Regions from separate parts of the Homo sapiens genome. Here region 1 is linked to region 2. The links come from fine-mapping of genetic effects on gene expression. A gene starts in region 2. The other region holds a variant in brackets. All regions are shown on one strand. Distances are from middle to middle.

Region 1 (2,500 bases), 19 kb before region 2:
CTCAAGCAGTACTTCTCAACCTTTAATGCATTTAGAAATCATCCAGGGATCTTGTCACGGAGCAAATTCTGACTCGGGAGGTCAGGGGTTACCGCCTAAGATTCTGGTGCAAACAGGTTCCACAGGAGGCCTATGTTGTGGGTGCATGAACCCCATTTTGAGTAACAAGGCTATCAAGTCAGAGAATAAATACGCATTGCTTTTACCCACACAGAACTTGCGACTGAAATGAGAAAATAGGCTGAGTGTGATAGCTCATGCCTGTAATACCTGCACTTTGGGAGGCCAAGGCAGGAGGATCCCATGAGCCCAGGAGTTCAAAACCAGCCTGGGCAACATAGTGAGACTCTGCCTCTTAAAAAAAAATTAGAAAAAGGGAAAACCAATCTGGGAAAGATCAAATATTGATCAAACATTGCAAATAATGCCATAAATGATCAGAATAGGGAGAGTAACATGCTACCTGGAGAACTAGAAAAAAAATTCTCAGAGAAGGTGGCCCTGGGACCTCCTGGCTCTGAATGGTGGTTCTGAATATCAGGAGAGGGGCTGGAGAATGGTGTTTTCTAGTGATGCTGCTGGAGTCGTGTACATGGACCGTGTTCCATGAGTAGTGAGCTGACCAATTAGAGAGATGAGGGGTTTGCCAGGACAACTACATAATGAGCCATATTTCAACATACATGAAGTTTTGTGTGTGTGTGCCAAGCAAATGAGTCTCAGATTCTCGGACAAAAACGAATACTTTTGCTCAGACAGACAGCATGTGAGTGCTTCTCCCCCAGCTTCAACCCTGCAGTGTCTACAGGTGTCATTGGTCCCCGGTAGACGTCCTCGGTTCAATGGGTCACTGATCACTTATCACCAGCACCACATGACCCTGGATGGCAGCCAAAGAGTTCCTGGGTCTTGTTTCCCTACCTCCACATTTTTTTCCTGACCCAGCCCGAGCCACGTGCACACCACAGGGCTGGAGTCCCAGTGCTTTTGTCCTGACAGCCCATTCTCCCACTCCCACACCCAACCAGTTCCCCGGGGGGTTTTTGACCAGCAGCTCCGCCTGCAGCCCTCGACCCGGATCCAGGCATCCTGCTTAAGGAGGGGTTCAGGTGGCAGGAAACTCCAGGGCAACAAAGTGTGGGTGGCATGGGTGGGGTTGACCGGAAGGTCACTGTGCTGGGAGGAAGAGGAACGGGTGGAGGGAAGGCAAGATACGGATCAGGAGTATTGACATCCTGTGCCAGTAGAGGGGCCTGCCCCATGGTGGAAG[G/T]TGTGGCCGGATGAGCTCGCTGGCCCATGTCCCCCCGTTTCCCAGGCTTTTTCCTCCCACGCTGTATGCAGTGCAAGAACAAGCTGGTGCAATTGGACTAGCAGCAATTGAGTCCTTTTACCCAAAAGAAGAAGAAAGAGCAATGTTTCAAAAGAATAAAAAGGAAGCTGCAGCCAGGTGCAGTGGCTCATTCCTGTAATCCCAGCACTTTGGGGGGCCAAGAGGGGAGGATCCCTGGAGCCCAGGAGTTTGAGACCAGCCTGGGCAACATAGTGAGACCCCACCTCTATTTTTTAAAATGATAATTAATTTTAAATAAGGAAGTTTGTGAAAGCCATTGGTTTCTTTATTCTAAAGAGCGTGGAAAATAGGACAGTCTCCAACAGGCCCTGATTTCCTTTGGTAAGAAAATGAGCAAAGCTATAGACTAGGAAACATGACTGGTTAAAGCCGGCCCATGCACCAACTCCGATACTGATAGTTATGTTTCCTTTCGTTCTTATTTGCTTCAAGCTTTGTTCCAGAAAACATTTGAACACTAGCTAGAACCACCACAGTGAATATCCATTGCCTAAATGCTATCTTTCAGGTATTATGTTCAGACATAGTATTACTTTGGTTAATTCTCAAAATAAAGTAGGTCATATGATTATCCCCATTTTCTGCCTGGTGAACTGTGGTTAAATGGGCTTACAGAGATTAAATGGGTTGCCTGATGTAGCCCAACGAGGAAGGGGCTAGGATAGGAAGCAGGCGCTCTCATTCCAGAACCTGCCTTTTTTCCTCCTGTCTAAACTGCTGCTAAAGGTCAAAGACAAAGGTGCCATGTGAGCAGGGAAGTTATTTTTGTTTTTTACAAAGGTGAAGTAATAGGCTGTGAGTAATGCCCACTGCTCCTTCAGCCCCAGGTACATGCAGTGAGGCGGTACCCACAGAGCCGCGTGGCACTCCTCAACCTGCTAGAGCAGCCGGCCTCCTGCAGGATGGCTTAAGGACCACCTGGTCCTTGGGGTCTGGGTTCTCCGGGTCCTGCTGTTCCCTGCAGCCTTCCTTCTACCCCCAGAGCAGCTTGGGGGCATCTTTAGAGAAAGCGGCAGTGTCGCACCTGCCCCAGCAGCCACAAAACAGAGGAAATTCTGAGCACCTCCGGGCGTGAGTCACCATACCACATTCAGGAATTGCCACCTCTGCCCACAGAATCACCCACTCTTTTCTGTTTGGGACCAAAAT
Region 2 (2,500 bases):
GAAGAGTGACGAGTGACTGAGAGTGGAGTCGAACACTCGAAAGGAGAGAGCAGGTGCCTGGGAGTCAGAAAAGCTGGCTTGAATTCCTAAATCTGTCGCCGTTTGTCCTGGGTGAGGTCATTCTGGTCATCTGTGGCAGGAGGACTACAAATGCCTGGCTTTTCCCTTTCTAGCGGGCACACAAAGAGACAGAGAAGTTGAATCTTTAGCAATCCATTGAAGGGGAAACCCCACAATGCAAAGAGAAGCATTGTCGAGGGCCCTTCACCTGCACCCTCTGTTCTCCCAGACCTGTTCCATGATGCATTCCAGAGGAGGTGGCTCTCCGTCACTGTCACTTGCGATTGCCAAGGCGTCAGCCAGACAAGGCAAAAGCTCCCAAGGGATGTTACCCTTCAGCTGCATACAGAACTCCTAGAGGCAACAAATCCACAAGGAAAGATACACCCATGATCGTGTATTTCAGCCACAATGATGGAGGTGAGGTGGAAAAGGACGAGGAACAAGTGGGATTCTGCCCATGTCTGTCTAATGAGCATCCACAGCAAACTCCAACGGAAGATGTGAAACACGCTCAACACTAGAAGAACTCGGTTTGACTCTGTCTTGGTGTGGGTCCCAGGCCAAAGCCCTCGGCATTTTCAGGATTAATGATCACTGCTGGCTGTCTCTTTTTCCCTCTGCCCACATAAAAGGCACAAAAACTAAAGAGGAAGGCCACATCACCGCAGAGCCCGTGGTTCAGGATTCTCCTCCTGGGAGCCCCGATTTCTTTTCTTTTCTCACCTTAACAGTGTCCAGAGTACTTTTATTGCCAGAATAGAGATATAGCCTGCTCAGAGCCTCATGTGCGGCCCACCACTCAGGAACAAAGGGAGAGACAGATACTAAGCATGTGTGCAACAGAGAAAATCCAGCCCACGAAACCGTGTGCAAGAGCAGCTCCGTCCTGCCTGAATGTGGCTTTGGGAAGCCCACCTAGAACTTGGCCTGGCGCCAGTCACCCACTCAGAGCCTACTGCCATGAAGGCAGGCCCTCACTCTCCATCCCTGCCCACACAGGGAGACCCAGGGCAAACAGAAAGTCCCCTAGCGGGGGCCCAAGGAACCCCTGGCTCTCTCAGGGTCCCATTCAAGTTTCTGGGCTAGTCTTGCAGACTAAATACCACTCAGTTGCCTGGTGGGAGTAGGTGCTGGGCAGGGTGGACAGGAGCCCCACTGCTTCTCAGCCCTGTGCCAACCCCTTTGTGTGAGACCCTAGTGCAGGGTGGGGAGCCCCAATTTCTAAGCCTTGAGTGTTTACCACCCTACACCCCCACCTCCAACTCCCGAATTGATCATCTCAAATTTTCCCACAGTCCATAGGCACCAGACACTTCAAATAATCTCAGAAAAGAAGGTGATGTCTACATCCAGAATCGTGCCAATACTTTAAAATTACAGGGAGAAAAATATTCCCCTTCCCCTCTTCTAAGGAAAATTCTGTCTGCCTCCCAAGCTCCCAGGTCCCTTGGTGTGAGCTGGGGGAGTGCGTAGAGCTAGGAATTGGAAAATATTCCGGGAGAGAATGATTTATGTTGAGAAGACCCATTGGGAGAAGCAGGAAGTGGGTCTGGAAAGACAGGAGGAAGTGTAAAGGCAGAGAAAAGCCCTTGTTAGCTGAATTTTGAGAAGTAATTTTTGGCATTGTTAGTGAGTAAAACTAGAGAATGAGGACAGTTGTATGCTGTCTTAAAAAATAAAAGAATGATAATATAGGGAAAGATGATTTCAACATTTTGGAGTCATATAAGTGGAATCCTCCTGTTATTACTGTGCAAGACTTTTAGACAAATTATTTTTTATTCTTTTTTTGGATGTTGTTCTGTTGCTGCTTTTATAACACTACACTGAGAAGGGCTAAAAAAAAAATCCCAAATTTATTCCTATTAGATTGAAAAAGAGCAACCCTCCAGCGTACCTTTCCACACACTCTTCTACCTCCTGCTGCCTTCAGGTGATGTTTGGCACTTCCTGACAAGGCCTTTCAGGGAAAAGGATTATAGCCAAGCTCTTTAGTGGTTACTGAGCTACAGACCTGGAGGTGTCAAGATCCTAAATTCCAGGAAAGATTCTTTATGAAAGGAAAGTCTGTGAGAATAAGAAGTTCTGGAACTTCCCCTTGTCCCCGCATGACCTCTTCAGACACTCGGGCTAATTTATGATGACTCTGAAAATGCCCATGACCTCATCTAGAAAAACGCACTCTCATGGAATTCAAGAGTTTCTAAGGGCACAAAATAGCTTCCAAGACAATTTGTTTCCTTCTTTTCAAATTGATGTGTTTAGAAATGTTCTTGGCTTGTGATTGACATCTCAGATTCCAAAAACATCTGAGGTCAATCCTGGTTATTTGTGCTAATGAATAATTACAAAAGAGTAGCTAAATATGCTTCTCGCTCATTTTGTTGAGCTAAAATTACTTATAAAGAAATGCATAGATCTGCGGCATACAATTTGA

Alleles and levels. Positions count from the first base shown, and alleles are read on the strand shown. Sizes are in standard deviations (SD) of each study's normalised expression.
With allele T in place of G in region 1, the expression in spleen of the gene that starts at base 944 in region 2 is higher (large effect, 1.0 SD a copy in GTEx).

What was found. PIP is the estimated chance that this variant, and not a neighbour inherited with it, causes the effect.
Region 1: its variant is fine-mapped to the expression of IL2RA-AS1 in spleen (GTEx, PIP above 0.99).

What each region holds. Positions count from the first base shown.
Region 1 is chr10:6,052,736-6,055,235 of GRCh38, reverse strand. The region is part of intron 1 of IL2RA (interleukin 2 receptor subunit alpha); the gene reads left to right. Among named protein-coding and RNA genes, the nearest start is that of IL2RA, 8.4 kb to the left of the region's middle. RefSeq lists a cis regulatory region at 2,210-2,500. The variant G/T (reference allele first, on the strand shown) is at 1,271.
Region 2 is chr10:6,033,854-6,036,353 of GRCh38, reverse strand. It overlaps IL2RA-AS1 (IL2RA antisense RNA 1), which reads right to left and starts at 944. Exons shown (of 2, transcript XR_001747349.2): 1 at 292-944; 2 at 1-169. The region is part of intron 1 of IL2RA (interleukin 2 receptor subunit alpha); the gene reads left to right.